Linked DNA regions of Homo sapiens. The protein of the gene in region 5 purifies or fractionates together with the protein of the main gene of each other region. This does not show direct contact. Each region holds a gene or a part of one and is shown on either strand. Other genes may lie near its edges.

Region 1 (3,500 bases), on a different chromosome or scaffold from region 5:
GGCAGGCAGCCGAGAGTCAGAGTCATCCCTCCACTGCATAATGCTGCCCTCACACAGGGCAGTCAGGGGAGGGAGTGATGGGCTTGTCCTGAAGGGGTTAGGGAGGGCTTCCCAGAGAGAGTGAAATGGAAACTGGGCTTCTGGGGAGGCCAGGAGCATGGGGCAGGGAACTCTAGGAGAAGGAAGCGACTGAGGCCCAGAGGCATAGAAGGATGTGATGCTTGGCTGGGCGCGGTGGCTCACACCTGTAATCTAGCACTTTGGGAGGCTGAGATGGGCAGATCATGAGGTCAGGATATCGAGACCATCCTGGCTAACAGGGTGAAACCCCGTCTCTACTAAAAATACAAAAAATTAGCCGGGCGTGGTGGCATGCACCTGTAGTCCCAACTACTCGGGAGGCTGAGGCAGGAGAATGGCCTGAACCCAGGAGGCAGAGTTCACAGTGAGCTGAGATCGTGCCACTGCACTCCAGCCTGGGTGACAGAGCGAGACTCCATCTCAAAAAAAAAAAAAAAAAAAAAAAAAGGATGTGATGCTTGATGAGTGCTGAGTGCTAAGGGGTCTGGTAGCACTAGAGCCCAAAGGAGGAGGGTGGCAGGTCGAGGTTAGCTGGGACCGTTGGGCGTGAAGCAATGGGAAGGGCATTGGCTGCCAGGCTGAGGCACTGCTGAAGTCCTTGAAAGCCCATGTTTGCCCCGCAGTCCTGTGTCTCTGTGACTCTGCTGACCTCAGCAACCTCAGGGCTGAAGCTCTGAGCTTGATCTGTCTCTCTTACGGCAGGAGAGGTGCTGAGAGGGGACCGGATTGTCAACACCCCTTTCCAGGTTCTCATGAACAGCGAGAAGAAGTGTGAAGTTCTGTGCAGCCAGTCCAACAAGCCAGTGACCCTGACAGTGGAGCAGAGCCGACTCGTGGCCGAGCGGATCACAGAAGACTACTACGTCCACCTGTAAGTCGCCCTGTGCTCCTTGCTGCCTCAGGCTCACACAGGGGAGGACACTGACGGGAGAGGCGGTCGAGAGGGACTGAGTGGGGCCTTCACTTTCCAGCATTGCTGACAACCTGCCTGTGGCCACCCGGCTGGAGCTCTACTCCAACCGAGACAGCGATGACAAGAAGAAGGAAAAAGATGTGCAGTTTGAACACGGCTACCGGCTCGGCTTCACAGATGTCAACAAGGTAGAGTGTCTTTGGCGTGCTCACAGGACCGGGAGCCACACCTCACGAGTCCTGAGCACTTGGGGCCACAGAAAAGGTGGGGCTCGGCCACAGCAAGTTTCTCCAGGTGCCCTGGGCATGATGGTCTGTCAGAGGTCCGAGTGCTCCGGGCAAGTCCCTGGGAGGTGCTACAGGGAGGTGAAGCCACAATTCTTAGGAAGTTAGGTTCCATTTTTGTAAGATTAAAACAACATAAAAAAAAAAACCGTGGAACTTCATCAGTATGTAGGAGAGAGGGCTAAGTAGTGGTCAAGAGCGTGCAGGCTCCCTGGGTTTGAATCCTTCCTCTCCCAGTTACTAGTTGTCTAAGTGACCCTGAGCCTGTGGTTCCTTAGCTGTAAAATGTATGCAGCAGCAGTGGCGGGGTAAATTAGCACATTCGTGTGAGCCCTTCCCAGCACAGCCCTGGAGAATCAGCTAATAATGTGATGATTATAGCCCTGATTCTCTTATCTTTCTTTCTAAACTGAAAGATATTAGTTAGGGAATAAATTACAAAAGTATGTGTTTTGAGGTGCAGCCCCTGTCCCCAAAGGGCGTCTGTCCTAACTGGGAAGAGAACCGACAGTGGGAGGCTCTAAGTCTCCAGTCCCAGCTGCCTTTCACTGGCCATTAATTGCAGGCGAGGTCAGAGGGAGCTCCTTTTACACTCAGGTTGTCACAGAGGAGGTGGGCCATGAGAAGTTGGTGGGCTTTTGCTGAGTGGAGTTGGGGGTGGCATTCTAGTTGGAGTGATTGCAGGGTAGAGACTGGTTCATGGGGCGGTGGGCACAGGGGAGTCTAGGTGAACTCATGTGACTTAGATGATTACACCCAGTTGTATCAGGGTCAGATGATAGAAGGCCTTGAATGCCAGACTTTGAGAAATGGGCTTTTGTCTGATAAGCTGCAGGGAGCCCTTGAAGAGCTTCTGAGTAGGGGAGTGATGAGAACAGTGTTTTAGGAAGGTTGGTACAACCAGGCATGCTGGGTGAGGCAAGGGCCCTAATACCTGGAGAGTATCCCTAAGTGATGTTCTGTTGTGCTTTCTCTGTTGCTGTGTTTCAGATCTACCTGCACAACCACCTCTCATTCATCCTTTACTATCATCGGGAGGACATGGAAGAGGACCAGGAGCACACGTACCGTGTCGTCCGCTTCGAGGTGATTCCCCAGAGCATCAGGCTGGAGGGTGAGTGGGGAGGTGTGGCCGGAGGGGCAGGGCTGGATGGGCCTGGGCTTCTCCACGCAGGGTCTTCGCACTCTTCTCCCTCCTGAGCTGGCCGATGGGCTCGGGTGTGGCGTGTGGGCCCAGCCAAGGTAGGATCATGGTATTCTCATTAGAGAAGACGGGGTGTGGGGGCAGCTGACAGCTGCAGTGTCACGGGCTAGACACCTTACTAGTTTACCCCTTCCCAGCAACCCCAGGAGGTACGTGATGATTACAAAGGAAGAACTAGAGGCTCAAAAGGAGCTAGTGACTTGGCCAAGACCAAACAGCAAGTTGGGGCTTTGTTGGGCCTCCTCACAAGAACCAGCCAGCTCACCCTGGGTTGAGAACAAGGGGCCAGGGTACAGACAAAGCCTGTAGGCAGCAGGTTTCTTCGTTCCTCTCCCGCTGTGTGAGTGATTGGCATAAACTAAAATTTGCCCAGGGTCAACAGGTGTGCGGGAGTTTGAGAGTCCAGCACAGTCCTGATGGGCCTCACAGGAGCTGGTCCGGCTTTGCCTCACCTCTTGGCCCTTGATCATCACAGTGTGCTTTTTAATTAAGCAGCATGCCCAGGATTTTGACCATGTTGGTGGTATTTGGACTTTTTTTTTTTTTCCACTGTGGAACTTAGTGTTCAAACAAAATTAGACACAGAAGTCCCAAACATAGATCCTGCCCTTCAAGAGCTCCATAGCACATCTCCCCTGGGAGCTTCCCGAGCGCAGTTCTACGTTTGCATGTGTGACGCTTTTGAGGCCACCTGCTCCCCCACTGGCTCTTCAAGCTTAGAGTCTCCCTGTCTCCTTTTCTTACCATTTTATCTTTTTTTTTCCCCCCAAGACAGAGTCTTGCTCTGTCACCCAGGCTGGAGTGCAGTGGCGCGATCTCCGCTCACTGCAACCTGCGTCTCCTGGGTTCAAGCAATTCTCCTGCCTCAGCCTCCTAAGTAGCTAGGATTATAGGCGCCCACTACCGCACCTGGCTAATTTTTGTATTTTTAGTAGAGACGGGGTTTCACCATGTTGGCCAGGCTGGTCTCAAACTCCGGACCTCGTGATCTGCCTGCCTTGGCCTCCCAAAGTGCTTG
Region 2 (4,200 bases), on a different chromosome or scaffold from region 5:
AATATTACAGCACTTTCATCGCCCCGAAAGAAACCTGCTACCCTTTGTAGTCGCTCCTTATTACCCCTTCCCCAGCCCCCGGTGAAAACTCATCTAATTTCTGTCTTCATAGATTTGCATTTCCTGGACATTTCATACAAATGGATCACATAATGCGTAGTCTCCTGTGACTGGCTTCTTTCACCTAGCATTTTTTTTTTTTTTTTTGAGACGGAGTCTCGCTCTGTCGCCCAGGATGGAGTGCAGTGGCACAATCTCGGCTCACTGCAACCTCCACCTCCCGGATTTAAGGGATTCTCCCACCTCAGCCTCCCGAGTAGCTAGGATTACAAGCGCCCGCCACAATGCCAGGGCAATTTTTGTATTTTTAGTAAAGATGGGGTGTCACCACTTTGCCTAGGCTGGTCTCGAACTCCTGACCTCAAGTCATCCGCCCGCCTTGGCCTCCCAAAGTGCTGGGATGACAGGCGTGCGCCGCCGCGCCCGGCCTGCCTAGCATAATGTTTTCAAGGTCCAGCTGTGCTGTAGCATGCGCATGCTTCGCTCCTCTATGGCTAATAACATGCCGCTATTATCAAAATGCTGCAACTAGGAGCGCTAGTGTGTAAATTTGGCGTGGACACTTGTTTCCAGGTTTGAGGAGCTGCCACATTGCTTTTCAGAGTGGCTCAGGAGCTAATTTTTTTGCAGGGTACCATGTCAACAATTTGGGTCAACTAAAATCAGCGTGTCCGCACCATTTTCGCCCGCCCAATTTCACGCGATCCTGCGAAAGAATGACCCAGACCGGTCCGGGCGCGGTGGCTCGCGCCTGTAATCCCAGCACTTTGGGAGGCCGAGGCGGCAGATCACAAGGTCAGGAGTTCGAGATTGGCCTGGCCAACATAGTGAAACCCCGTCTCTACTAAAAATACAAAAATTAGCCGGGCGTGATGGCGGCCGCCTGTAATCCCAGCTACTCGGGAAGCTTGAGACAGAAGAATCGTTTGAATCCGAGAGGCGGAGGTTGCAGTGAGCCGGGATCGCGCCATTGCACTCCAGCTCGGGCGGCAGTGCGAGACTCCGTCTCAAAAAGGAATGACCCGGGTCGCATGGGGTGAAGGGTCGGGAAGCGCCCCAAAAGGAGAACGGGGCTGGGCTCCGGGATCCGTCGGCGAGGAAGGGGCGAAGGGGTGGAGGGACTCGGGCCAGGCCGCCGGGGATGTCTGTGGTTACCTCCAAGCTCTGGAGGCCTTGGCGAGACCCGCGCCATCCGCAGCTTGGTTCCTGCGACCTCAGCCGCAGGGCGGTCCGGCTCCGGTTTCCCAGCAACCAGGCGTCATCCTTCCCAGCAAGCACTGCGTCCAACCCGCGACGTCGGACCACAAGGCCCAGCATGCCCCGCGCGGACTACAAGCCCCACAATGCACCGCACACCCTTTACTGGCCGGCCCCGCGCTGCTCTCCTAAGACCCCGCGGGCCAGCGCCGCGACCCCTTCCCAGCGCTCCTCGCGCTGTGTGCGGCGCGTCCTCTCGCCGGTGACCCGGTGTGCGTGGGGTCGAGGCGCCGGGCGGAGTGGCTCCGGGCCGAAACGCCATGCGGAGGGGCGAGCGCAGGGACGCCGGAGGTCCGCGGCCCGAGTCCCCGGTGCCCGCGGGCAGGGCCTCGCTGGAGGAGCCGCCTGACGGGCCGTCTGCCGGCCAAGCCACCGGGCCGGGCGAGGGCCGCCGCAGCACCGAGTCCGAGGTCTACGACGACGGCACCAACACCTTCTTCTGGTGAGGGCAGTGGGCGGCCGCGGGGCGGCGAGGGTGCCCTCGACCTGGGGGTTCCGGCACCGCTGGCCTGGGGGTCCCCGGCAGCGCCCTCTCGCCGTCTTGGAGTCCAGGACTGTGGCCGGGGGTTTGAGGGTGTGGCAGCACCGCCCCCCGGGTCCCGGGGAGCGGCCGGACCGAGCTCCCGACGCCGGGTCGGGCGGAGGGCGGCGCTGTAGGTGGGGGAGACCCTGGGCAGACCCTCCCTGCGGCCGCTTTGCGTCTCTCTCGCCGCCCTCCCCACCCCTGCCCGCCTTGGCTCTGACCGCGCGGTTCTGCGATCCAGACCCCTTCCCCGCCACCCGCCTCCAGCGTCACCCCAGAAACGCTTTCTCTGTCCTGCTGTCGAAGCTTCACCTGTGTCCCCCGTCATTCTGCCTGTGGTTGCTCCTCAGTGCTTGCGGCTGCACGAAATCATCTTGTGTGTCGCGCCCGACCCCACGTGGCGATCGTGTTGATTAGCAGAGTGTTGTGCGTGCTTCAGGAATGTAGTCGGTGTTCGTCGAATCCAGGCTCTGTTTCTCTCCTCAGTTGCCCCTAGCGGGGCCAGCGCCTCCTCCCTGCACAACTCAGCCCTAGCTACACCTTGGGGTCCCCCTGTCCGCCACTCTGCCTTTAATGGGGGTGGAAAAGGAAGAGGCCCCCGGGAGCAGCTGGAGTGTGGCACTCTGTGTCCAGACAGGCTCCAGGTGCCGCTCCTACTCCCGACAGCTGCGACCCTGGGCTGGCCCTTTGCCGATGCTCCTCTGTGAGAAGGATCAAGCCGTCGACCTGAAAGCAGGCTTCGTGAGAGGAGGGTTTGGCTCTTCTTGACTGCAAGGTGCCCAGTTCCCATCCTGTGGAAGGCCCGGGGGCACAGGGGCAGTAGAGGTGGGGTCAGCCCCAGGAAAACGTGTGGGAGACAGGCGCCTGCGGCCAGCAGTGGAAGGAAGGCTTTATGGACGCTTCCAAGAGAACCATGCTGTGGGATGGTCGGAGAGCAAATCTGAGGGGCGAGGAGGGCCTGATGGAGGAGTAAGGGACTTGTCAGGGGAAGGCGCCACCACAGACAGGGACTTAACCGGTCCTGGCCTGTCACCGCAGCCGAAGCTCTGGAGAGAGACTGTCCAAGTGGTGGGAAAGCAGGTTAGGGTGGAGGAGGCCCCACGCAGGGTCTTCCGTGAGGTGTGGGCAGCTGCTGTTGCAGGGAGGGCATCCGAGCTCTCCTTTGGGGAGATGAGTGTACCGGGTGGCTGCGGGGCCCTCGGGAGGGAGAGGAGATGGGGTGCCTGCCACGTGGACCCTCTGGCTTCCGGGCCCTGTGGACATCAGGCCTCTCCATCAGGTGCCCTGCCACACCCCTTCAGGCTGTCCTCCCGCAGCACAGCTGGGGACCACCGGAGTCTCTGAGGTCCTGGAGCAAGGAGACCAGACTGGCTCTTCTGAGGTCCCGGAGCAAGAAGACCAGACGGGCTCCTCTGACATCCCGGAGCAAGGAGAACAGACGGGCTCCTCTGAGGTCCCGGAGCGAGGAGACCAGACTGGCTCTTCTTGTTTCTCATTTGGCCGTTCAGCACATTGTGGGGACCCCTACTGCCTGTCAGTTACCGTTCTACGGGACATAGCAGAGAACTAAACAAGAAGCTTAGATTCTGGTGCAGGCATGGAACTTCAGAAGGCTCAAAATGTGCTGGCTGGGTGCTGAGTGTGGCAGGAGCCAGGGGGCACATGCAAGCCTGCGCAGCCCACCCAGTACCAGGGAAGCAGGAGCAGCAGCCCAAAGGTAGGAGGGGGCCGGTCTCTTTAGAAGCCCAGACCAGTGGTCCCTGCCCACAAGGGGTGTTTGGGACACAGACGGCTGGGCGCAGCAGAGCTTGCCTGTCAGGAGGCCAAGGGGGTCAGGAGGGCTCTCCAGGAGCGGGTGCAGCGGGGCTGGCTGGTCCAGGTACCTCCTTCCTGGGTCTTCTGGGTGGGTGGCTCTGGCTCTGGCTTTCCCCTCGACCCTGTCCCTGTAGAGACGCATGGGGCAGGTTCTTGCTGTGCCTCCTCCCTTCCCTGTGCAGAGGAAGGAGCTTCACGCTTCTGGGTGGCAGGTAACTCAATGCCTGCCTGGTGAGAATTCATTACCTGCAGAGCCTCACACTGACCTCCTGAGTCCACCTGCACTGACTTGCTGTGCTGGCATTTTTTTAACTCTAATTTTGTGTTTTAGAGAGTTTTACTTTTTATTTTTTATTCATTTTTATTTATTTATTTATTTTTAATAGAGGGTCCCCCTGTGTTGCCCAGGCTGGTCTTCAACTCCTGGCCTCAAGTGATCCTTCCGCCTCAGCCTCCCAGATTGCTGAGATTACAGGCATGCACCACCACATCCAGCCAGGGCGTTCATTTTCAAGGATGGGTGCACTTCCTCGGGCCAGTGACGG
Region 3 (3,500 bases), on a different chromosome or scaffold from region 5:
TAAAAAAAGAAAAATCCATTACCTTGAAGTGGCATAAATTTTTTTCATGAGATGCATGTTTATTATTACTAATGGTGCTGTTTTACATCATGAATATATGTGCTACAAGTTGTATAGCACTTCTGAAGTACAGTTTCATTATAGTCATTTGGCCCTCATAATAGCTTGTAAGGTCATTAGATAATGCTGCATTTTATAGGAAAAGAAACGAGGTTAAGAGAGGTTGGGTAACTGAAGGTCAGGCAGATAGTAAATAGAAGAACAAAACTAGAAAATAGATTTTCTCACTCCCAGTCATTTAGTTTTTCTAATATCAGCTTGGTTCTTTGCAAATTTGGGACACTAGTTCTAAGTCTTTAGGAAAAGGAGAAACCAATGTGAAATGATCCCAAATATAAGGGAATTCCCTACTTTTCTGATGAAACTATTAAGAAGGAAAGCTTTTTGCCAATTGTATAAACTTTTTAAAATGCAGCCAAAATAGGCCGGGCGGTGGCTCATGCCTGTAATCTCAGCACTTTGGGAGGCCGAGGTGGGCAGATCACCCGAGGTCAGGCATTTGAGACCAGCCTGGCCAACCAACATGGTGAAACCCCATCTCTACTAGAAATACAAAAAAAAAAAAAAAAATTAGCCGGGCGTGGTGGCAGGCGCCTGTAATCCCAGCTACTCGGGAGGCTGAGACAGGAGAATCACTTGAACCTGGGAGGTGGAGGTTTCAGTGAGCGGAGATCTTGCCATTGCACTCCAGCCTGGGCAACAAGAGCAAAACTCCATCTTAAAAAAAAAAAAGGTAGCAAAAATAGTCAAATATGTTCTTAAAATAGTTAATAATTCACTTATATGTATATGTTTTAAATAAATAAAGTTTAATTTAGAAATAATTACTTTTTTCCATTTTCATATTAATAAAACAATTTTTTCTAGATTCTTTATGAACATCATGTCATCACTGGGGCCACTTTTTGAATCATCAGTTTGGTATTTAGCAGTTTTGAATCCATGTGTGATATATTGGCAGTTTGGGAAATTTTATCCCAAGTCATAAAAACCCATTTATATAATATTAGGATAGTTGCTTTTAAAAGGAATATTTTGTAACTGATATTCAACACATGAAATTGTGAGTTCTGGCTAGGCGTGGTGACTCATGCTTGTAATCCCAGCACTTTGGGAGGCCAAGGTGGGCTGATCACTTGAGTCCAGAAGTTCAAGACCAGCCTGGGCAACATGGTGAAACCCCACTTCTACCGAAAATACAAAAATTTGCCAGGCATGATGGCACCTGCCTATAGTCCCAGCTCCTTTCAGGGGGCTGAGGCAGGAGGATTGTTCAAGCCCAGAAGTTGAGGCTACGGTGAGCCAAGATTGCACCATTACAGTCCAGCTTAGGTGACAAAGTGAGACCCTGTCTCCAAAAAAAAAGAAAGAAATTGTGAATTCTGATCCTCAGGATAATTACTAAATCCAGTGACCTTTTGTTAGTACTACATGCAAAACTAGCGTAGTTTGAAGATAAGATGTATCCCAGACAATTATTTTAGTTCAATATAAAGTCATTGAGGGAGCACCTTTAATATGAGAGACTATGGAAGGATTCAAAACTACACAACTCTTTTTTAAAAATATATAAGTATTCCTTACATAAAAATATATTACCATGATAGCATATTTTCACACCTAAAAAATTAGCAATAATTTTTAATATTATCAATTATTCAGTCACTGTTCAAATTTGATTTATACATTGTGATTGATTGACATGTCTAAGTCTCTTAATGTGTTTGTATTTTTAGTAGAGATGGGGTTTCACCATGTTGGTCAGGCTGGTCTCGAACTCCTGACCTCAAGTAATCCACTCGCTTTGGCCTCCCAAAGTGCTGAGTTTACAGGTGTGAGCCACTGTGCCCGTGAAAGTCAGTATTCTATTACTTGTCATGTCAGCTGGTCGTGGTAGTTCACGCCTATAATCCCAGCACTTTGGGAGGCCAAGGCAGGAGGATCGCTTGAACCCAGGAGTTCAAGACCAGCCTGGGAAACATAGCGAGATACTGTCTCTACTAAAAGCTTTTTAAAAATTAGCGAGGCTTGGTGGCACACACTTGTAGTCCCAGCCACTCAGGATTTCTTGAGCCCAGGAGTTTGAGGTTGTAGTGAGCTGTGGTCTTGCCATTGCACTCCGGCATGGGTGACAGAGTGAGACCCTGTCTTAAAAATAATACTACTACTAGTCATGTCACTAAATAAATATGTCATTCTATGGAACATTTCCTGAGATGCTGAGAAAACAGATGTGAAGAAATAATTAGTACTTACTTATGCATATGTTCCTGGCAGGTGCTGTTGGCAGCAGCGGTCTGCACAAAAGCAGGAAAGGCTATTGTTTCTCGACAGTTTGTGGAAATGACCCGAACTCGGATTGAGGGCTTATTAGCAGCTTTTCCAAAGCTCATGAACACTGGAAAACAACATACGTTTGTTGAAACAGAGAGTGTAAGATATGTCTACCAGCCTATGGAGAAACTGTATATGGTACTGATCACTACCAAAAACAGCAACATTTTAGAAGATTTGGAGACCCTAAGGCTCTTCTCAAGAGTGGTAAGAGTACTGCTATAATACTGGGTTCCACTTTTTGTTTTACATTTTATGTGAAACTAGTTTTTCCTCCAAAGCAGCTGATGCTAACCAGTTTGCAGGTTCCTACTCCGCACCCCAGCGACTTATTGCTGCAGCACCTTGTTTATTCAGCAGACATTTATTGGGTGTCCTCTTAGACTATAGATGTCTCAAAAGAATATGGGAACTACTGTTTCATTTCCCAGTTCTTAAGCAGTTGTTCTAATCTGCCGTTCTAGTTCTGACACTTGTTTGGCTATGCTTTTTAGGTAATGTTTTTTAGGTAAGACTTACTGATCCAGAGACAGACACACACACACACACCCCTCTTCTAAGACTTTATGCCAAAGTCTTGCTTAAAATGAAGACTTAGGTAAGACTTACTGATCCAGAGACAGACAGACAGACAGACACACACACACACACACACACACACACACCTTTTAAGACTTTATGCCAAAGTCTTGCTTAAAATGAAGGCTAAGGCCAGGTGCGGTAGCATGTGCCTGTAGTCCAAGCTACTCAGGAGGCTGAGGCAGAAGGATTGCTTGAGGCCAGGAGTTCAAGTGCACAGGCATTATACTTTAGTGTGGGCAACACAGCAAGACCCTGATTCTTTTTTTTTTAAAGACGGAGTCTCGCTCTTGCCCTGGCTGGAGTGCAGTGGTGCAATGGTGCAATCTCGGCTCACTGCAACCTCCACCTCCCAGGTTCAAGCAATTTTCTGGCCTCAGCCTCCCGAGTAGTTGAGATTACAGATGTGCATCGCCATGCCTGGCTAATTTTTGTACGGGGTTTCACCATGTTGGCCAGGCTGGTCTCGAACTCCTGACCTCAGGTGATCTGCCTATCTTGGCGTCCCGAAGTGCTGGGATTACAGG
Region 4 (3,500 bases), on a different chromosome or scaffold from region 5:
GACACTTTCCAGTCCTTTTTCCCCTACCAACATTTTAACAGCTTTTTTGAGGTGTAATTGCACTACACCTCAATAGACTGTGCGTATTTAAAGTGTACAGGTTGACACCTTTTGACATACACACTTGTGAAAAATTACCACAGTTAAGATAAAGTTTCATATGATTTTTTTTTTTTTTTTTTTTTTTGAGAGGGAGTCTCGCTCTGCCACCCAGGCTGGAGTGCAGTGGCGCAATCTCGGCTCACTGCAAGCTCTGCCTCCCGGGTTCACACCTTTCCCCTGCCTCAGCCTCCCGAGTAGCTGGGACTACAGACGCCCACCACCACGCCCGGCTAATTTTTTGTATTTTTAGTAGAGACGGGGTTTCACCATGTTAGCCAGGATGGTCTCGATCTCCTGACCTCATGATTGCCTGCCTCGGCCTCCCAAAGTGCTGGGATTACAGGCGTGAGCCACCACGCCCAGCCTGTTTCCTATAATTTTTTATGTTGATAATTTTTCAAAGTACTAAAATGCTGAAAGAACAGAACAAGGAATAGCTGCAAACATCTCCCCTAAAGTCACCAGTTCTTACATTTCCCCTCAAACTTTTTTCTCTGCAAACACATCCGATAGACACATACACACATGCACACACATTTATTTTTATTTTTTGGCAGGATCATTTGAAAGTTAGTTGCAGACGTCTTAATACTTTTTCCTACAGAACCACAATACCATTGTCTCAGCCAAGAAACTTAAATATAGTACAGTATTTTGTAACAGATAGTCCATATTCAAATTGTCTTTATAGCTCATAAAAAATCCAACACCCAGTCAAGGACTGCTCATGCATTTAGTGTTCATGTCTCTAGTCTGTCAGAGTTTCCTCACTTTTGGTGGAGGAAGGGACTTAATTATGAATTTTTTTTTATTTTTATTTTTTTTTGAGACGGAGTCTTGCTCTGTCACCCAGGCTGGAGTGCAGTGGCGCGATCTCGGCCCACTGCAAGCTCCACCTCCTGTGTTCACGCCATTCTCCTGCCTCAGCCTCCCAAATAGCTGGGACCAAGGGTGCCCGCCATCACGCCCGGCTAATTTTTTTTGTATTTTTAGTAGAGATGGGGTTTCACCGTGTTAGCCAGGATAGTCTGGATCTCCTGACCTCGTGATCTGCCCGGCTCGGCCTCCCAAAGTGCTGGGATTACAGGCATGAGCCACCGCACCCGGCCCCAATTATGCATTTTTTTCTTTTAGACAAGCTCTCACTCTGTAGCCCAGAATGGAGTGCAGTGGCGCAGTCTCGGCTCGGTGCAACCTCTGCCTCCTGGGTTCAAGCGATCCTCCCACCTTAACCTCCTGAGTAGCTGGGCTTACAAGCATGTGCCACCATGCCTATTTATTTATTTATTGTATTTTTCGTAGAGACAGGATTTCTCCTCGAAATCCCTGTGTTGCCCAGGCTGGTCTCTTGACTCCTGGGCTCATGCGATCCTCCCGCCTTGGCCTCCCAAAGTGCTGGGATTATAGGCGTGAGCCACTTCGCCTGGCCCAGTAAGGGACTTTTACAGCATTGACATTTCTGAAGATCACAGACTAAATGTCTTTTTTTTTTTTGAGCTATAATTCATATACCATACAGTTTATTCATTGAAAGCTCAGCGGTTTGTAGTATATTCACAGTGCTGTACAGCTGTCACTACAGTCAGTTTTAGAACATTTGCATTACCCCAAAAAGAAACTCTGTACCCATTAGCAGTCACTACTTTTTTCCTTTGCCCCAACTCCCAGCCTTAAGCAACTGCCAATCTGCTTTCTGTCTCTATTTCTGAGCCTACTGTGGGCTTTTCATAGGAGTGGAGTCCTGTACAGTCTGGCCTTTTGTGTCTGGCTTCTTTCACTTAGCCTCATGTTTTCAAGGTTCATCCATACTGCAGGATCAATACTTTATTCCTCTTTATGGCTTTTTATTTACCTGATCATCAACTGATGCACATTTCGGTTTATGTCACTTTTTGTCTATTGTGAATGGATGCTGCTGTGAATATCCATGTGCAAATATTTGTGTGGGCATTGTTTCCAGTATTTTGCGGTGCATACCTAGGAGTCCAGTTGCTGGGTCATACAGGAACTTTTTGTTTAACACTTTGGGGAACCGTCACCCTTTTCCAAGGCAGATGTACCGTTTTACCTGCCTACCAGCATGTGGGGCCTGGTTTCCCCACATCCTTGTCAGCACTTGCTATGGTCTACCTTTTTAATTCTAGCCATCTTGGCAGACGTGAAGTAGTATTGCTGTGGTTTTGACAGTCCAGAACTGGTTTTTTTTTTTGTTTTGTTTTTTTTTTTTTTGAGACAGAGTCTCGCTCTGTTGCCAGGCTGGAGTGCAGTGGCACAATCTCTGCTCACTGCAACCTCCGCCTCCGGGGTTCACGCCATTCTCCTGCCTCAGCCTCCCGAGTAGCTGGGACTACAGGCACCCGCCACCACGCCCAGCTAATTTTTTGTATTTTTAGTACAGACAGAGTTTCACTGTGTTAGCCAGGATGGTCTCGATCTCCTGACCTCGTGATCCACTCACCTTGGCCTCCCAAAGTGCTGGGATTACAGGCGTGAGCCACCACACCTGGCCCAGAACTGTCTTTTGAAATGTCCCACAGTGTGTATTGTATTATTCTGATTATCTCCTCCGGGTTAGGCTCAGACTTAGCTTTCATGGCAAGAATTCTGCAGAAGGCATCATGTGTCCTTGCTGAGGCAGTACCATATCGGGGCTCGTGGTGTCTGTTTGTGCCATCGCATTCTCGTTGGTTGACGCTGAATTTGATCTCTGGGTTGAGGCTGGGCAGGCCCACTGCGCTGGGGGTGCCCTTTCCCCTCTGTGGTTCATACGTGGTCTGTATGTTATGTTCCAGCATTTTCCGTTCATCTGGCTTTTGCATTTCTGTGTGTTCTTCAGATGCTTGGGAAACCTCTGAATGGCAGAATCTCCCGTCCCCTCTCCCTGGCTTGCTTATCAAGATGCCTTTGCCCTCATGGCCTGATTTTCCATAGGACCCGTTTGCATGTGCCTGAGGGTGATGGAGGTAAAGCGAGATTAGGATGCAGGAAGGCCATTGTCACCCAACCCCGGTGTTGGATGTCCCCGGGTGTTGGATGTCCCCCGCCTGACTGCTGCAAGAAGAGCGCTGATGAAATCCCAGGCTTGAAGCAATCTTGTTCCCTCCCATGGAGGCGATGGCTGGGCCTTGTTTGTCTGAGTCCTCAGGCATCCACAGTTTGCTCACCTGGTCCCCTTATTTCAACTTTCCATTCTGAAAATTGTCCAACATAACCAAAGGTAGGGAGAGTAGAGTGAACCCTTGTTCACCCAGGTCTTCCCATGTAGCAACTTTCTGCCATTCTGGTTACTTCTTTCCTTCCTAAATTTTTTTGAGGGTGCCTGGAATAATATTTTAAAGCTAATCCAATACATTAGTTCACCTTTGCATATTTCAGTTAGCATCTTTAACAATAAAAAT
Region 5 (3,500 bases):
GAATAGGAGGGTGTGAGGTAGACAGATTGTGCAGGGCTATTGAAAGTACCATGCTTGGACTCTGAGTGAGATGGGAAGCTGTTGCAGGATTACAATCCCAGCTCTGCTGCTTCCTAACTCTGGGACCTTATGCATATTACTTTACCTCTCTGAGCTCCAGATTCTTCCCATGTAAAATGTGGGAATAATGAAACCCATCTATCTTAGTCCATTTTGGGTTGCTATAACAGAACACCTGAGTCTGGGTAATTTATAAAGAGCAGAAATTTGTTGTCTCACAGTTCTGAAGGCTAGGGGAAGACATAAGGCCTGTGACTTAGGGAGTAACCCTGAAACCCAAGCAAAAGTGACTCTTGCCCCAAGCTCTAGAGGAGGTGCTATAGAGGAGTCCACTCTGGTCTTCTGCTGTGGTCTCGGTGTTTGTGTCTCCCTAAATTCATATGTAGAAATCCTAATTCCCAATATGATGGTATTAGGAGGTGGGGGTCTTTGAGAGGTGATTAGGTTATGAGGACAGAGCCCTCATGAATAAGATTAGTGCTTTTATAAAAGAGACCCAGAGAGCTAGCTAATCTCTTTCACCATGGGAAGACATAGTGAAAAGACAGCCATCTATGAACCAGAAAGCAGGCCCTCACCAGACACTGAATCTTCTGGTGCCTTGATCTTGGACTTCCCAGCCTTCAGAACTGTCAAAAATAGATATCTGTTGTTTATAAACTACTCAGTTTATGGTATTTTGTGATAGCAGCCCAAAAGGACTAAGGCACCCTCTACTGGTTATGCCTCTAACCTCTATAGAATGATGTTGTAACCTCCCACAGTGCCAAGGAGAAGGTCCACTAAGTTTACAACCCTGTCTAGACCACACTCAGGGAATTCTCTACCCAACTGCTCAGAGCCTGTTTCCAAGACATCACGGGTCTCATTCTAAATCTCTCACTCTGACGGGAGACTGTGCCATAAATGTGTAGGGTTCCTGGGGCCAAGTGGTGGCTTTCAGTTAGAGCTCAGACAAATAGATTCTATGTAGCCTGAGGTTGGGAGAGAAGAGGCCAGGGTCCCTGAAGCAGATTAGGGGTGGGGGCCCAGCTTCTCCTGTATGATCACATTTTGTATGGAATTTTGAAAGGTCCAGGAATCTTAAATTCAAACTTGGCCTTCCATGTTGTTACGAAGGTGTATTTGTCAAGGTGGGAGGATGAAACATTTTACTCAATGGCTTGTTGGTTACAACTTTAAAATATTTAAGCATGGTACATATAGACCTTTATGGGAACTCTCTCTTCAGGCCTTGGCAAAAGTAGAGGCTGACTTGGTGGCCAGAATTTGCCCTCAAGCCAGGTATCTGTAGCTCTCCCTTGATTAGGAGACCGGCCTAATCATGGCTGTCATTTTGTACCTCACTTTGAAATGTTTCAGCCTGAAATATGAAAGAGTTAAAATGAACAAATACTTGGGAAAGGGTGACAAACTTGGAATGAATTTAGAGAATTGTTTAAAAAAATTGTCCTTTATCTTGGCACACTGTTTGCACTCAATGTATTTTAAAACATAATAATAATTCTTGATAATAATTATAATTTTCTCATTATTCAGAGGAGGGCAGCCGCTACCCTGGAGATAGCACCGCTGCTGCCAAGAGCTTTTGGAAAAATACAATGCTTTCTGATTGTTCAAGGATATTCCCACTTTTAAGGCAGGCTGAGGCCCAAATGTCTTCCCTTTCACAACTGGGCCACTTTGGAACACAGTGGCCAGAATCCCTCTTTTCTGGGGTCTGCAACTGGTGAATAATGTCTTAGCCTCCTCTCACCTGCCACGTAAGAGGGAGGCATAAAACCTTAGGATACTTGTTACTCTTTTGCTGGACTTTTTACTCTGCCAAGAGGTTTGACAGCTACCTAAAAATAGTATAGCTGAATGCCAGTGGCTAATTATACGAAGGGAAACCCTCAACTCTGAAAATCAATTCTGAGCCTGATGTTGGAATCACAGTTGCATGGATTTCTGATTTCATATTTATTTTTTCCACATCTGATCTTAGATCCTTTATAGCAGCAGGTGGGTTAAACCGTGATTGTTCAGGTAGTTTCTGATGAGTTGTGGATGTGGGAGATGAAAGCAAAGATGAGTGAGATGCTAGATTACTCTCTATCCCTCAGCTAATTGTTTCAACTTCCTCCCTGCTTAGATTTTTTTTTTTTTTTTCAAACCAGAGTTGCTTATATAACACAGAACTGAGCTGGGCTTTCTTCTTTCTTTTCCCCTCTGTTAGATATGCTAACAGATAGGAAACGGGTCTCAGGTAAGAAGAAGCAAAGAGCCTAGAGAATTCATTAACTCAATCACTCTCTAAGTAATTTACAATGATAGGCTGGTTTCCTCATCAGCAAAATGGAGATAATCATATCCATTCCATAAGGTTATTATGAAGACTAAATGAGATTATATACATGAAGTTTGGCACTACTGACAATTTGGGCTGAATAATTCTTTGTTGAGGAGGTTGTCCTGTGCATTGTGGGGGGTTTAACAGCATCCTTTACATATACCCACTAGATGCCAGTAGCATACCCCTCCCCACAAGTTGGGACAATAAAAAATGCTTCTAGACATTGCCACATATCCTGGAGCGGGGGTGCAAATTGCTCTCCCCATGAAGAATCATCACTCTAGCATAATGTCTGGCACATAGCACTAGAAATATAGTTGCTTTTATTGTTAAGAGGAAAGTGGGAATAGGTGAAGAGTTAAATAAGCTGCAATTGTAAAGTATCTAGTGAACTTGGAAATGATGACTGACATTCATGGTGGCATTCATGCTTAAACATTCATGAAGACATTCTTAATGTCATCATGTCAACATTCATGATGACATGCTTAAACATTCAGGACGATATTCATGATGGCATTCATGCTTACAAAATCTAAGCAGGGAGGAAGTTGAAACAATTAGCTGAGAGACAGAGAGTAATCTAGCATCTCACTCATTTTTGCTTTCATCTCCCACATCCACAACTCATCAGAAACTACCTGAACAATCACGGTTTAACCCACCTTCTGCTATAAAGGATCTAAGATCAGATGTGGAAAAAATAAATATGAAATCAGAAATCCATGCAACTGTGATTCCAACATCAGGCTCAGAATTGATTTTCAGAGTTGAGGGTTTCCCTTTGTATAATTAGCCACTGGCATTCAGCTATACTATTTTTAGGTAGCTGTCAAACCTCTTGGCAGAGGAAAAAGTCCAGCAAACAGTGTTAGGAGTTAAAAGTGGATAGGAGGTAAAAGAATAGAGAAGGCAGAGAAATAGAAGATTACTCTTGGCGTCAGTCTTTTAAGATTCATTACATATAACACTACTTACACATTTTAATGAGCTTTTAAATGCCTTACAAAGTATTGATTTATCTTGGTCTTTATAGTTTGTTCTGGCATCTCTTAGAGTGAGTGCATAACCTATTTAAAAAGGCAGGGGAACAGAGAGTTGTCAG
Region 6 (3,500 bases), on a different chromosome or scaffold from region 5:
CCCAAGGAACATGGTTACTACTTCACAGTGACAATCGTGACGTTTCAAAGCCAATCCCATCAAATGGGGCCACTGCCTCCCGGAAGTGAGTCATGGGGCCATCCGAGGGGCACGTGCAGAGTGGCCCTCCTAGGAACCGTCAGTGAGGCCAGCCCTGGGCCCGGCCCCGACACCATCCCAGCCCCCACACTGCCCCCGCCCCGTGCTGCCCCTGCCCATCCTCCCCCAGCCCCGAGGACCCTGCAGACGCAGCCGGAGGGAAGGGTGGGGTCAGCTTCCTCTCCCCTCTGAAAGTGCCTGTGGTTTGAAAGGTTTGAAACCCGTCAGCCTCTCATGTTCCCTTAGGGGTTTTGGAAAGAGGAAAGTCCTGTGGGTGTCGCACACCAGACGGCAAGATATTCTCGGGGGAATTTGGGAAGTGAGACTTAATCGGGAATAGAGTGACAGCCCCGTGTGCCCCGCAGCCCTGCGGCTCCCGTCCCTGGAGAAGCAAGAGTCTCCCAAGAGGTTGTCTTCCCTCCCAGCTGGATTTTCATTAAAAAGCCCAGCTCCGAGAAGGCCCCAAGAGACCCCGGGACCCTCATGGGCCCCCCACCCCAGCCTGCATTTGCAAACCCAACTTACACGCCTGCCCCAGGGTCCTCTCCCACCTTGGCCAGAGCCAGAGACACAGAGCTGGGTGCAGAGCCAGGTTCTCCCCAGGGGCCTCGGCCCACCCAGGACGGCCCTCGGCCGGTCTCACCTGCGTCACCACTTTGCTGGGCGTGGAGCCCAGGGCGTGGATAAGGTTTCCCCGCATTTTATCTCTGGGTTTTGCCGGGCTAAGGTTTAAAAACATGCAAAGACGGCAGGGGCTAGAGCCAGCACAGCAGGGAAGTCACTCAAACTGACACCCTGGGTTTGTCTCCGTAGATGAGACTCAGAATTCAAGTGGCAGGGAGCTTTGCAGCTGCCCCTGTTTTGCAGAGGATAGGAAGAGGCCAGCTTTGCTCCCAAAGCTTCTGGTCCCCTCCAGAACATTCTTTTGCCCCATGTCTTGCTGGCTGCTGGGCTCTGGGCTTCTCCCCTTTGGGGGCCATTGCCCTGTGATGATTTTCCTTCCAACGGCCTCGGGTGCCATGGGCTCCACACTCGGGCCAAGTCCAGCGAGGCCCGGGCCCCGGAGAGGGGGTGGCACTAACCAAGGACCACCCAACGCCCTGCCCGTTTTCCCTGCAGGTTCTGTACAATGTGTTTGAATCTTTCGTGGCGCTGGGAGGTGACAACGTGACTGGCGTGGACTGCGTGAAGGGCATAGGTGTGTAGCTGTGGGTCAGGGGGAGTGGGCGGCCGTGTCTCCTCTGGGGCCAACTGTCTTCTCTGGCCTGCAGCCCATGCAGGAAAAAGCTTTGCACTCAAAGCTGCTACACTGGGCCCTTCTGTCCACGTCACGTCCCCGTCCAGAGCGATTCACACACGATTTGACATGGTCCTGGGGGTTCCTGGGTGTTTCCCAGAACAGGGATGAGGGCAGCCAGGTCTTCCTGAGACAGACGGCCGGATAGGGCCTGGGGCCAGGCTCCCAGGGGCACGGGAGGGTCCTCCCCACTTGCTGAACCAAGGCTGGTGCTGAGACCAGGCCCGATCTCCAAGAGAGTGAGGGATCCACCCCCGTTTCCCGGGCTCCCGGCACTTCCGCGGGGTCACCAGGCGGCCCCTGGCAAGGAAGGGCCCGGAAGGCCGGCACGGCCACAAAGGGCGTCCTCTACCCAGTGTCCTTCTTCGTGGTGAGCCTGGGGGGCACGCTGGTGGGGGTGGTCTTCGCCTTCCTGCTGTCGCTGGTGACGCGCTTCACCAAGCATGTGCGTATCATCGAGCCCGGCTTCGTGTTCATCATCTCCTACCTGTCCTACCTGACGTCCGAGATGCTGTCGCTGTCGGCCATCCTCGCGTGAGTCCCTCCCACACACGCGAGCTTCTCCACGCCCTCCTCCCGAGCTTCTCCACACCCTCCTGGGTCCGGCAGGGCGAGCCAGCCAGGGGGACCCCAACCCGAGCTTCTCCACACCCTCCTGGGTCCGGCGGGGCGAGCCAGCCAGGGGGACCCCAACCCGAGCTTCTCCACACCCTCCTGGGTCCGGCGGGGCGAGCCAGCCAGGGGGACCCCAACCCGAGCTTCTCCACACCCTCCTGGGTCCGGCGGGGCGAGCCAGCCAGGGGGACCCCAACCCGAGCTTCTCCACACCCTCCTGGGTCCGGCGGGGCGAGCCAGCCAGGGGGACCCCAACCCGAGCTTCTCCACACCCTCCTGGGTCCGGCGGGGCGAGCCAGCCAGGGGGACCCCAACCCGAGCTTCTCCACACCCTCCTGGGTCCGGCGGGGTGAGCCAGCCAGGGGGACCCCAACTCGGAGGGAGGTGCCAGCCGCATGGACACCGGGGGTGTGTGTGGCAGAAGCTCCGGGCTCTGCATCACCAAGTTCCCCGTGAACCCCCGTGAGGGGAAGTACAGGAAGTGGAGGGCCTCCCCTGCCCTCTGTCCTAGCGCGGGACCTTCAGAGCAGTGTCCCGTCACCTCGCCCGCTCCGCTGGCGCTCCCAGGCTGGGTGGGAATTCAGTGTGGGGCAAAGAATTTATTTAAATTTTAAAATAAGGAGTTGGCGTTTCCACTGAATTGTCTGTGGGCCGACAGCAGTGCCCACCCTGAGACAGGTCAGGTGGGGAGGGACTTTGGAACCCTTTGTTGCCCTCCCTGCTGGCAGGCAGCCCCGGTGCCCATTATCTGCATGACGGTGATGCCGCCTGTGGCCCCCGCAGGGCTGTGGGCAGGAACCCTGGCGGCCCAGCCTGGCTCGGGAGGAAGAGGCCCCCGTAACCACACAACTGTGACTCTGGGCCTACAGGCGCCAGGCCGTGGGGGGCTGGGCGGACACGGGGGCCTCGGGCGCCAGGCCAGGTGGCCGTGTCCTGAGGCGCGTCTGTCCCTGCAGCATCACCTTCTGTGGCATCTGCTGTCAGAAGTATGTGAAGGCCAACATCTCGGAGCAGTCGGCCACCACCGTGCGCTACACCATGAAGATGCTGGCCAGCAGCGCCGAGACCATCATCTTCATGTTCCTGGGTATCTCGGCCGTGAACCCGTTCATCTGGACCTGGAACACGGCCTTCGTGCTCCTGACGCTGGTCTTCATCTCCGTGTACCGGGCCATCGGTGAGGCGGGGCCGGGTTGCGGCCGTGGGACCACCGATGGGCCGGCACCGTCTCCGGGAAGGCGCAGGCTTTCTACTGGGCCCAGGGAGATGGAGGTGCAGCCCCGTGCAAGGCAGAGGAGAGGACCTGATGGTGGCGGCCTCGGGGCTGGGGTGGGAGGCTCTGGAACCCCAAGGGAAACCACTTGGTTTCCCACTGACTCCACTGGATGTGCCTCAAGACAGGGTCAGTGGCACGAGAGATGGAACGGGAAGCAAGACAGCCCCGCCCCCGCCCAGCCCCATCCCCCAGCACCCGTGTGTGTGATGCACG
Region 7 (3,500 bases), on a different chromosome or scaffold from region 5:
CTCCTACATGAAATTAAATGAAATGGACCAAGGCAGACACTGGTCTTCCCTGCAAAGCTAGGTCTTTGCTGCTGGTCTCCTCTCTCTCTGGACATTACACAGGCTCGGGCCTCCATGGAATAATTTTGCACTTCTGCTGCAGGTAGAACAAGTCAGCCAGTTGGCTGTGTTCATAGAGGCAGCATTAGACTATCACAGACAGTCCACAGAGATTCTGCAGGAGCTGCAGAGCAAGCTACAGATGCGGTAAGCACCTCCACGTTTCTTACAAGCCAAGGGCTGCGGAGGTAACATCTATTGAAATCCATCTGTCTGTCTCTCCATCTCTCCATCTCCCCCTTCCCCTGCCTCATTCTGTTTTGAATTTTCTTTCACTGGCTTTCATGGTTGGATGTGGGATGGGACTGAGATAATAAGTACTGGCTTTGGCCAGTAGGATAGAACTGGGAAAAGGGACCTGGCAGCTTTTCTCCTTTTTCTTTTCATTAAATCCCTTTTTTTTGTGACCCGTGTTTAGGGCAACTAACCAAGTTGCTCTCCCACCTGGGACATCAACCCCTACAGAACTACCCTGGCTTCATTGCTGATTTGATGAGAGTTTAACTCCCCATTCACAAAGGGATGGAAAACATCCAGAGCTATGGAAAAAAGTGAGATGCTGTATGGAAAATATGTAAATATCTGTAAAAAAAAAAAAAAAAAAAAAAGGTAGTGCCTTCACTTCACCAGTACGAATTTCAGGATATGTTCATAATATTGACTAGTATTGAAAGAGTCAAAATATTGACAAATTTCAGGCTGTGTTCATAATATTGACAGGTATTGAAAGAGTCAAAAATATCTTCTGAACAATCAAAGAAAGGTTTCTGCATTCCTTGTGAATTTAATCATAGATGTAGTCTATACTTTTCTGAAAATTAGTAATATTATATATAGTCTGCATGGCAACCCTGTTTATTAAAATATTTTAAATTAGGTTTGATAACAGAAAATTGTTTTACACAGGATTATGGTAATGCATAAATTTGGAGGGATTTTTACTTAAATCAATGACGTAGTTACCTAGGGAAGACAAAGATGTGTTCAGTCCCTGAAGCATCCACTTCTGCAGGCAGATAGTTTACCTGTTACTGACAGGAGTGTATTTTCATAATTCTATCATAATCTATAAGAGTAGAGTGAGGGAGAAGGCAGCTCCCATCACTGGGTGCCGACCGCGTCCCAGGCACTTGCTGGATGCCTCAGAGACTTGATGAAGAAAATTAGTCTTTTGTTTTGTTTTGTTTTGTTTTGAGATGGAGTCGTGCTCTGTTGCCCAGGCTGGAGTGCAGTGGCGCCATCTTGGCTCACCGTAACCTCTGCTCACTGCAGCCTCCACCTTCCAGTTTCAAGAGATTCTCCTGCCTAAGCCTCCCGAGTAGCTGGGATTACAGGCGCCCACCACCATGCCTGGCTAATTTTTGTATTTTTCGTAGAGATGGGGTTTCACCATGTTGGCCAGGCTGATCTCGAACTCCTGACCTCAGGTGAGCACCTTGGCCTCCCAAAGTGCTGGGATTACAGGCATGAGCCACCATGGCTGGCCCAATTAGTCTTCTTCAAGATGAATTTCACTCACAAGCTCAAATAGGGAGTTGAAAAACTGCATTTGTGATATCACCTCCATCACTTCGGGCTACTCAAGAGTCAGTGTGTAAAAATCGTCCCTTTCATGACCACTGGCTGTAACCTAAGTTCCTGTGCTCAACAAGGCAGAGAGGATGTGTGTTTGGAAAGCTTTCAACATCAGATGTCTGGCTCATCTTACGATGTGTGTTACAGAATATCAGCTGCATCCAGTGTCCCCAGACGAGAATACAAGCCAAGGCCTGTGAAAAGGAGTTCTAGTGAGCTCAATGGAGTTTCCACCACCTCTGTAGTGAAGACGACAGGTAAGTTGACCATTCTAATATGCTAAGTGTGCCTTTAGTAAAGCACTTCTAGAAACACTTATTTACTGCTTGTTTCTGGGTCAGTGAATACACACAGACCCTGGATATCTTTCTTTGGTTGTTTGGTAAATTCCCTTTTCCCCTAAACGTGCCCCTTTTTTCTGTTCCCTGGGGAAGAATTCTATCACTTATATAATGTAGCATTTAGAACCTTGGCCATAGAACCATTATGGCTACATCATCCTTTATTTTTTTAACTCTTTGAAAATATTTTCTTAATTTATTTTTAAGTTGAAATTAGCATTTTTGAGCAACTGCTATATGCTAGATACTATCTTAAGTGCTGCATCGTTATTTTTTATTAAACAAGTGATGCAAATGTGTCTTTTAGTAAAATAATCAAACAGAAAAAAATTGGTAAAATAATCAAACAGAAAAAAAAATTTAATGGTATAAGTCATTCTATAGTCTCTTGTGATCACCTACACCATCGCAGTTCGCTTCCTAGATGTAGCCACTGTTAAAAAAATTTGGTATAACTATTATCATATCTATTGAGGTACATAAATATACACATAAACAGCGTTTTGGATTTTTTTCTGTTTTTTCTTTTTTTCTTTTTTGAGACAAAGTCTTGCTCTGTCACCCAGGCTGTAGTGCAATGGCATGAACATGGCTCGGTGCAGCCTTGACCTCCTGGGCTCAAGCAATCCTCCTGCCTCAGCCTTCCATGTAGCTGGAACTACAGGTGTATGTGACCCTGCCAGGCAAATTTTTTTATTTTTTGTAGAGACAAGGTCTTACTTTGTTGCCCAGGCTGGCCTGCAACTCCTGGGCTCAAGCAATCCTTCTGCCTCGGCCTTCTGAAGTGCTGGGATTATAGGCATGAGCCACTGTACCCAGCCTTTTTTCTGTTTTTTAAATGCGAGATTATACTAGGCATATTGTTTGGCAGTTTGCTTTTTAAAATGTATCACTGTTTCTTCGAGTTATTTCCATATCATGCATATAGATCTATCCCACTGTTTTAACAGCTTCATAGTTTTCTATTATACCATTTCCCTATTGGTGGACGTTAAGGTTTTTTCCAGTTATTTGCTACAGTGAGTATCCTTTATCACTGTGCTGGCTACATTACTATTAAAGCATGAACACCTGCTTCCCCACACCCATGCCAGTAGACTTCCATTTCTGCCAAGCACTCATGAGAAAAAAATGGTATCCAGTCTTAATTTGCATTTTCATGATTATTAGTGAGGGTGAACTTTCTTTTCTATATTTTAATTTGTATTTCCTTATGTCTGAATTGTCTGTTTATGTCATTTATTTGTGTTTTTTGGGAGTAGTTTGCTTTGTCTTATTGTTTTATAGGAGCTCTTTCCATATGAGGATATTAATAATTTTTTTCCTAGTTTGTCATTTATCTTTAAACTTTGTTTTTGGAGTGCCTTGTCCCTTTGTTGTTTTTGCTGTTGTTTGCTTTGTTTAGTTTTGCTTTGAGTATACAGAAGCTTTTATTTTGATGTAGTCAAATGTGTCTGTCTTTTGCTTGTGACTTTACATTTTGTG

What was found.
Region 1: the proteins of DRD3 (region 5) and TM9SF4 purify together in Homo sapiens (affinity purification with mass spectrometry; one large-scale study listed by BioGRID and IntAct). This does not show direct contact.
Region 2: the proteins of DRD3 (region 5) and PTDSS2 purify together in Homo sapiens (affinity purification with mass spectrometry; one large-scale study listed by BioGRID and IntAct). This does not show direct contact.
Region 3: the proteins of DRD3 (region 5) and ARCN1 purify together in Homo sapiens (co-immunoprecipitation; one study listed by IntAct). This does not show direct contact.
Region 4: the proteins of DRD3 (region 5) and BRI3BP purify together in Homo sapiens (affinity purification with mass spectrometry; one large-scale study listed by BioGRID and IntAct). This does not show direct contact.
Region 6: the proteins of DRD3 (region 5) and SLC9A3 purify together in Homo sapiens (affinity purification with western blotting; one study listed by BioGRID). This does not show direct contact.
Region 7: the proteins of DRD3 (region 5) and SH3GL3 purify together in Homo sapiens (pull-down; one study listed by IntAct). This does not show direct contact.

The regions. Positions count from the first base shown.
Region 1 is NC_000020.11:32,140,714-32,144,213, forward strand, and holds part of TM9SF4 (transmembrane 9 superfamily member 4 isoform 1 precursor), read left to right. Parts: intron 1-783; coding exon 784-952; intron 953-1,052; coding exon 1,053-1,182; intron 1,183-2,268; coding exon 2,269-2,392; intron 2,393-3,500. UniProt on the Homo sapiens protein: Associates with proteins harboring glycine-rich transmembrane domains and ensures their efficient localization to the cell surface.
Region 2 is NC_000011.10:448,879-453,078, forward strand, and holds the start of PTDSS2 (phosphatidylserine synthase 2), read left to right. Parts: upstream 1-1,400; 5' UTR 1,401-1,577; coding exon 1,578-1,759; intron 1,760-2,478; exon of another isoform or gene 2,479-3,459; coding exon of another isoform or gene 3,460-3,557; intron 3,558-4,200. UniProt on the Homo sapiens protein: Catalyzes a base-exchange reaction in which the polar head group of phosphatidylethanolamine (PE) or phosphatidylcholine (PC) is replaced by L-serine. Catalyzes the conversion of phosphatatidylethanolamine and does not act on phosphatidylcholine.
Region 3 is NC_000011.10:118,578,909-118,582,408, forward strand, and holds part of ARCN1 (coatomer subunit delta), read left to right. Parts: intron 1-2,337; coding exon 2,338-2,601; intron 2,602-3,500. UniProt on the Homo sapiens protein: Component of the coatomer, a cytosolic protein complex that binds to dilysine motifs and reversibly associates with Golgi non-clathrin-coated vesicles, which further mediate biosynthetic protein transport from the ER, via the Golgi up to the trans Golgi network.
Region 4 is NC_000012.12:125,000,145-125,003,644, forward strand, and holds part of BRI3BP (BRI3-binding protein precursor), read left to right. Parts: intron 1-3,500. UniProt on the Homo sapiens protein: Involved in tumorigenesis and may function by stabilizing p53/TP53.
Region 5 is NC_000003.12:114,172,553-114,176,052, forward strand, and holds part of DRD3 (D(3) dopamine receptor), read right to left. Parts: exon of another isoform or gene 3,374-3,500; intron 1-3,373. UniProt on the Homo sapiens protein: Dopamine receptor whose activity is mediated by G proteins which inhibit adenylyl cyclase. Promotes cell proliferation.
Region 6 is NC_000005.10:482,950-486,449, reverse strand, and holds part of SLC9A3 (sodium/hydrogen exchanger 3 isoform 1 precursor), read left to right. Parts: intron 1-1,218; coding exon 1,219-1,297; intron 1,298-1,752; coding exon 1,753-1,930; intron 1,931-2,967; coding exon 2,968-3,188; intron 3,189-3,500. UniProt on the Homo sapiens protein: Plasma membrane Na(+)/H(+) antiporter. Exchanges intracellular H(+) ions for extracellular Na(+) in 1:1 stoichiometry, playing a key role in salt and fluid absorption and pH homeostasis.
Region 7 is NC_000015.10:83,586,841-83,590,340, forward strand, and holds part of SH3GL3 (endophilin-A3), read left to right. Parts: exon of another isoform or gene 1-135; intron 136-142; coding exon 143-246; intron 247-517; exon of another isoform or gene 518-673; intron 674-1,821; coding exon 1,822-1,931; intron 1,932-3,500. UniProt on the Homo sapiens protein: Implicated in endocytosis. May recruit other proteins to membranes with high curvature.